2 linked regions of the Homo sapiens genome follow. The protein of the gene in region 1 interacts with the protein of each later gene in a biochemical or structural test. Each region holds a gene or a part of one and is shown in the gene's direction. Other genes may lie near its edges.

Region 1 (3,746 bases):
GAGGCGGAGCTTGCAGTGAGCCGAGATCGCGCTACTGCACTTCAGCCTGGGCGACAGAGCGAGACTCCGTCTCAAAAAAAAAAAAAGGAAAGAAGTCTTGAGAAGAATATTATCTGCCACTTTATAAGATATTACTTTTGCGAAGAATATTATCAGCCGGGTGCGGTGACTCACGCCTGTAATCAGCACTTTGGGAGGCCAAGGCGGGCGGATCACAAGGTCAGGAGTTCGAGACCAGCCTGTCGAAGATGGTGAAACCCCATCTCTACTAAAAAAATACAACAAAATACAAAAAGTAGCCAGGGGTGGTGGTGGGTGCCTGTAATCCCAGCTACTCAGGAGGCTGAGGCAGGAAAATCGCTTGAACCCAGGAGGCGGAGGTTGCAATGAGTCAAGATTGTGCCATTGCACTCCAGCCTGGGCAACAAGAGTGTAACTCAGTCTCAAAAAAAAAAAAAAAAGAATATTATCTGTCACTTTTTACCAGTGGCCTAGAGCTGTGTTTGAAAATGTCAAATGTGACCAACTGAGTCATGATGAGAGTCTAAAGCATTTTAGCATACACTGTTTATTTATATATATTTTTTTGAGTTGGAATCTTGTTCTGTTGGCCAGGCTGGTGTGCAGTGATGTGATCATAGCTCACTGTAGCCTTAAACACCTTGGCTCAAGCAATCTTCCTCCCACCTTAGCCTCCTGAGTAGCTGGGACCATAGGCGCATGCCACCATGCCCAGCTAATTATTATTATTATTTGGCGACGAAGTCTCGCTCTGTCGGCCAGGCTGGAGTGCAGTGGCACAGTCTCGGCTCACTGCAACCTCTGCCTCCTGGGTTCAAGCAATTCCTGTCTCAGCCTCCCGAATAGCTAGGATTACAAGCGTACTCCACCATACCCAGCTGATTTTTTTTGTTTTGTTTTTGTATTTTTAGTAGAGATGGGGGTTTTACCATGTTGGCCAGGCTGGTATTGAACTCCTGACCTCAAGTGATCCAACCACCTCGGCCTCCCAAAGTGCTGGGATTACAGGCGTGAGCTACCATGCCCAGCCTATTATTTATTTTATAGACAGAGTGTCCCTATGTTGCCCAGGCTGGTCTTGAACTCCTAATCTCAAGCAGTTCTCCTGCCTCAGCCTTCCAAAGTGCTGAGGTTACAGGCAGAACCACATGTAAATATATGGGCATTGCTGGTTCAAATTAGATGTACATTTAAATATTTTCAAACTGGCCTTCAAAAAGTTGTATTAATTTATCACTATTTGTGTATGAAAATGTCTCTTTCCGGCTGGACATGGTGGCTCATGCCCACCCGTAATCCCAGCACTTTCGAAGGCCGAGGCGGGTGGATCACCTAAGGTCAGGAGTTCGAGACAGCCTGACCAACATGGTGAAACCCCATCTCTCCTAAAAATACAAAAAAGTTAGCCAGTCATGGTGGCATATACCTGTAGTTGCAGCTACTTGGGAGGCTAAGGCAGGAGAATCACTTGAACCCAGGAGATGGAGGTTGCAGTGAGCCCAGATAATGCCACTGTACTCCAGAGCCAGCGAGACTCTGTCTCAAAAAAAGAAAGGAAAGAAAAGAGAGAGAGAGAGAAGGAAGGAGGGAAGGAGGGAGGGAGGGAAGGAAGAGAGAGAGGGAGGGTCTGTTTTCCTGTACCCTTACCAATGCCGTATGTTATTAGGGTTTCAACTTTTGGTAATCTGATAGGTGAAAAATTACAAATGCGTTATAAGTGGAGTTGCATTTTAAAAACTATGATCGGGGGAGGGATAGCATTAGGAGATATACCTAATGCTAAATGACGAGTTAATGGGTGCAGCACATCAGTATGGCACATGTATACATATGTAACCTACACGTTGTGCACATGTACCGTAAAACTTAAAGTATAATAATAAAAAAAAACAACTATGAGATTTGATCAGATTTTTACGTATTTATTGGCTCTTGGTATTTTCTTTCTTTTTTTTTTTTTTTTTTTTTTTTGAGACAGAGTCTTGCTCTGTCACCCAGGCTGGAGTACAATGGTGCAGTCTCGCTAACTGCAACCTCCGCCTCCCGGGTTCAAGCAATTCTCCTGGCTCAGCCTTCCAAGGAGCTGGGATTACAGGCATGCGTACCATTCCCAGCTAATTTTGTATTTTTAGTAGAGACGGGATTTCTCCGTATTGGTCAGACTGGTCTTGAACTCCTGACCTCAGGTGATCCGCCCACCTCGGCCTCCCAAAGTGATGGAATTACAGGCGTGAACCACTGCGCCCAGCCACTCTTGGTATTTTCAATGATGATTCTTGAGATTTCAGTGAGTCTTCAGGTGTCAGTGAATGGAATGGCTAAACATAAAAAGGCTTCAAAACTTGTGATACTGTGAATGTAGGATGTCAGTTCAAAAGAAATGATGTTGTGACTGTAGGGTATCACTGAGATGCCAGTGATAACCTGCCCATGTCACATGTTGACCCTTTTCTCTCTTAATTTCAGGTGATCATGGAGCTCAGCTTGGTCTCCATGGGGCTGGTGGTGATGGAATACATGATGACACAGCAGGTGGAGAGGAAGGAGAAAACAGCCCAGATGCCCAACCCCAAGCCGGTCGGAGGACCCGGCGGGAAGCATGCACCTGCCCCTACTGTAAAGACAGTGAAGGAAGGTGAGTTGACCCAGCCAGTTTCTTACAAATATAAAGAAAAATTAATAGATTTGGAGATAAGAGGAAGAAGATTAATTTTTTTTTTTTTTGAGACCGAGTCTGACTCTGTTGCCCAGGCTGGAGTGCAGTGGCGCAATCTTGGCTCACTGCAAACTCCACCTCCTGGGTTCACGCCATTCTCCTGCCTCAGCCTCCCGAGTAGCTGGGACTACAGGCACCTGTCACCACACCCAGCTATCTTTTTTTATTTTTAGTAGAGACAGGGTTTCACTGTGTTACCCAGGATGGTCTCGATCTCCTGACCTCGTGATCTGCCCGCCTCGGCCTCCTAAAGTGCTGGGATTACCAGCGTGAGCCACCATGCCCGGCAAAGGTTAATTTTTTTTTTTAGGATTTAAGACTCAGAGCTGGATGCATATAATCCCAGCACTTTGGGAGGCCAAGATAGGAGGATCACTTCAGCCCAGGAGTTTGAGACCAGCCTCAGCAAGAAAGCGAGAGCCGATCTCTACAAAAATTTAAAAATTATGTGGGAATATTTTACTGGCCATAAAAAGAGAAAATGAAAAAAAAAAAAATTTTTTTTTTTTCTGAGACAAAGTCAGTCTGTGTTTCCCAGGCTGGAGTGCAGTGGCACATTCTTGGCTCACTGCAACCTCCACCTCCTGGGTTCAAGCAATTCTGCCTCAGTCTCCCGAGTAGCTGGGACTACAGGCGTGTGCCACCACGCCCGGCTAAGTTTTTCTATTTTTAATAGAGACAGGGTTTCACCTTGTTAGCCAGGATGGTCTTCATCTCCTGACTGTGTGATCTGCCCACCTCGGCCTCCCAAAGTGCTGGGATTACAGACGTGAGCCACTGCACCTGGCCAAAAAAATTTATTTATTTATTTTTTTGTTTTGAGATGGAGTCTTGCTCTGTTGCCCAGGCTGGAGTGCAGTGGCACAATCTTGGCTCACTGCAGGCTCCGCCCCCTGGGTTCACGCCATTCTCCTGCCTCAGCCTCCCTAGTAGCTGGGACTACAGGTGCCCGCCACCTCGCCCAGCTAATTTTTTGTATTTTTAGTAGAGACGGGGTTTCACCGTGTTA
Region 2 (3,746 bases), on another chromosome or scaffold:
CGCAACCTCTACCTCCTGGGTTCAAGCGATTCTTCTGCCTCAGCCTCCCGAGTAGCTGGGACTACAGACGTGCACCACCATACCCGGCTAATTTTTGTATTTTTGGTAGAGATGAGGTTTCACCATATTGGTCAGGCTGGTCTTGAACTCCTGACCTCAAGTGATCTGCCCGCCTCGGCCTCCCAAAGTGCCAGGATTACAGGCGTGAGCCACTGCGCCTGGCCAAAAACTTAACTCTTAAGAAACTAGAAAGTTGACGGCAGGATCCCAGCCCTATTCATTTTTTTCCTTTTTTTCCCTAAGGCTATTTTTGTTTGTGGTGGTTGTGACAGTTTTTGTTTTTTAAAGTTTTAAAAATTGTAGTTTTTCCTGTATCATTCACACCATTCAGATATGGCACTGGTCTCCCACAGTCCTTCCAGAGGCTGCCCCGAAATGTATTCTATAATAATATAAACTGAACCAGAGAAAAGTTTCATGAGCTTTTTAATCCAAAAGGGATCATATAAATATATCGCCCTGTGACAGTGTTTTGCTTGTCTGTATGTGTGAGGGGATTCTTGTCAACCTGCCTCGGTCCTTGACAGCTGCGTGGTGTTCAAGGGGCTAAACAAAGCACAGCTTTCGTGACCCCCTTCATGGATGGGTGTTCGAGTCATCCAGATTTTTTCAGCAGTGAATGTCTTCACCCCTGCGTTTCGGGGCCCCTCTGCCAGTGTTTATCTAGGGAGAAGTGGCAGAAATGGCATCCACTCAAGCCTTTGTTTTAGGGCGTGGCACTGACCTGCCTTCAGGGGTGGACAAGGGTGGGGATCCCAGGGAGAAGGCAAGGGGTGCAGATGGCAGAAGCATGCTAGGGTTTGGGCCCCAGGGGCGAGTATGGAGGGGGATACATTCTGGCTGGGTTCTGGGGAGGTGGGGCACGTGGCGGGTATGAGTGTGGGCTCTGTACCAGCCAACTAGGGTGCAAGTCCTGGGTCCACCTCTCACTGTGTGGCCTCTCTCAGGTGGAGGCCATCATAGCACCTGCCAAAAGGTGGCCGGAGGGTTGCAGGGGAAGCAGTTGAGTACACAGTGCTTAGAGCACAACAGCTCTTCTTTCCCCTGGGTGCCTTCAAAAGTCAGTGAATGTGCACAAGAGGGAGTGGTTCATCAGCATGGGGGGGGTTCATTCAGCAAACATTTGTTGATGCCAGGCTCCATGGCAGACACTATAGATTCTCAAGTGATTCAGACACCTCTGAGGGTGAGATAGATACATCTGCAGAAATGTGTAGGGAGAGACAGAATGTGGCAAAAGGTTGGGTTTGAGGCAGTTCAGAGGGAGAAGAGGTGACACCTCCTAGCTGATGCGTAAGGTTTCTGCCCACAGAGGTAGAGGGAGCAGGCGTGAAGTGGGGAGGGTGGGAGGGATGCAAGGGCAGTCTAGATTTCTGGGAAAACGTGACTCGGGTTCCTCTAGAGAAGCAGTGGCAGATGAGAGTACAAAGGCAATGGGGAGCTGGAGGAAGGCCTTAAGCAGGGGCGGCGGCATGGTAAGGTTTGTAGGAGGACTGGCTGCAGCAGAGGCAGGGAGACCAGTGTGGAGTCTGCTCAGCAGCCCACTGGGAAGGTGGTGATCGCCGTGGTGATGAGCAGTTCTTGGTAGCTGCATGTGAGGAGGGTGACAGGTCAGGAACTCTAGCTCAGGAAACCCTGTGGATGGTGGAGGGGAAGATCAGTCTGGTTTTGGTCCGGGTACTTTTGAGCAGCCTGTGAGACCTCCAGGACAGTCCCAATCCTGGAGTGTCTGAACTAAGCCAGAGTGCTTAGAGCTTGGGTTCTTCCTCAGACCGTCTTGGGTACAAATCCTGACTCTACCACTTCCTGGGCCTCCCTGGGCTTTAGTTGCCTTATCTGGAAAATGGGGCCATTTTTATACAGCCAGTCCGTTGAATGGAATGAACTAATGGATGCAAGGAACTTGATGAGCACCAGCTGCTACCATGCGTATAGATTAGTCAAAAACCAGAGAGAAGGTGATTTAGCCAAGGGACCTATGTAATCAGTGGCTTAGCTGGGCATGGTGGCTGACTAGTCCCAGCACGACTACAGTGAAGGCTGAGATGGGAGAATTGCTTGAGCCTAGGAGTTTGAGACCAGTCTGGGCAACATAGGGAGACCCCATCTCTACGAGAAATAGAAAAGTTAGCTGGTCTTGGAGGGATGCGCCTGTGGTCCCAGCTGTTTGGAAGGCTGAGGTGGGAGGATTGCTTGAGCCCAGGAAGTCTAGGCTGCAGAGAGTTGTGATCATACCACTGCACTCCAGCATAGTCAACAGAGCGATACCCTGTCTAAAAAAGAAAAAAAAATAGTGCCTTAAAACAACAAACATTTATTATATAGTTTTTGTGGGTCAGGAATTCAGGGAAGACTTATCCAGCTCTGGCTTGGGGTCTCTGGAGATTCAGCCAGTGTTTGGGTTCTGGCTGCTAACAGAAGTTGTGACTAAGTGTTGCTGTTGGGAGGAGGCCATGGTTTCTTGCCCATCATTAGGGCTACTTGAGTGCCCATATGATATGGCAGAGTAAGTGACCCAATACAGAGCAAGGAGGAAGCTCCAGCGCCTCTGACCCAGTCTCAAAAGTGACAGGCCATCCCTTCCACCACATTCCATTCATTCATCCCCAGAAGCAAGTTACCAGGTCTGGCTCATAAGGGGAGAATTAGGCTATATCTTTTGAAGGAGAAGGATCAGAAAGTTTGCGGATGTGTTTTAAATCCACCGCTAGACCCCAGAGAAGTGGTGAAAATGGAATGTCCTGTGTGGTAGGACTGTGACTCTCAGGCTATGTCCCCTCTGATCTCCCTCAGTCACACACTCAGGCATCCTGCTAGAGAAACTGAGGCGAGGGTAGCCCAGAGGCACCCAGCCTTAAGCCAGGTCTCTTCTGGCCTCACTCCTGGTTACTGGGCATCCTCCCGTTTTCGCCACAGGTGAAGCGGAGGCTGGACCTGGAAACTGACCATCAGTACCTGGCCGAGAGCAGTGGGCCAGCTCGGGGCAGAGGCCGCCATCCAGGAAAAGGTACCTATGGAGCTTGGGCTGGGCAGACCCCCTGTGACCAGGCCCAGGTTAGGGATGTGAACAGACAAACATGCTTGCAAGCTAACGTCTGGCTTGTCGGGCTTGAGCCAGGCCTCTGAGGACCCTGATGGGCAGTTGGAGTGGCCACCTGGCTTGGTTTCTCCAGGCCCTGAGGGGTGAGGAGTTCCCCAGCCAGAAGAAGAATGCTGTGGTTGGCCTCGCCAAGGGGAAGGAGCTGGCTGTCCCCCAGCCCCCATCATCCTGCTGCCCTGCACTGCCAGAGTGGCAGGCCTGGCTGGAGGTGGGGGTGGATGCTGAAGGGCCCTGTCTTGCCTGACCACACCCCCACAGGTGTGAAATCCCCGGGGGAGAAGTCACGCTATGAGACCTCACTGAATCTGACCACCAAGCGCTTCCTGGAGCTGCTGAGCCACTCGGCTGACGGTGTCGTCGACCTGAACTGGGCTGCCGAGGTGCTGAAGGTGCAGAAGCGGCGCATCTATGACATCACCAACGTCCTTGAGGGCATCCAGCTCATTGCCAAGAAGTCCAAGAACCACATCCAGTGGCTGTAGGTACCGGCCACACAGGAGGGCAGGCACACCTGCCCATGCCAGCCTGGAGGAGCTGGTAGTAATACCCACTGTGGCTGCCTGCATCCCCATCTTATAGCTGGGGA

The links. The genes of interacting proteins can lie anywhere in the genome.
Region 2: the proteins of SP1 (region 1) and E2F1 form a complex in vitro, tested with the Homo sapiens proteins (4 studies listed by BioGRID and IntAct).

Annotation. Positions count from the first base shown.
Region 1 is NC_000012.12:53,404,098-53,407,843, forward strand, and holds part of SP1 (transcription factor Sp1), read left to right. Parts: intron 1-2,487; coding exon 2,488-2,656; intron 2,657-3,746. UniProt on the Homo sapiens protein: Transcription factor that can activate or repress transcription in response to physiological and pathological stimuli.
Region 2 is NC_000020.11:33,679,647-33,683,392, reverse strand, and holds part of E2F1 (transcription factor E2F1), read left to right. Parts: intron 1-2,976; coding exon 2,977-3,067; intron 3,068-3,418; coding exon 3,419-3,638; intron 3,639-3,746. UniProt on the Homo sapiens protein: Transcription activator that binds DNA cooperatively with DP proteins through the E2 recognition site, 5'-TTTC[CG]CGC-3' found in the promoter region of a number of genes whose products are involved in cell cycle regulation or in DNA replication.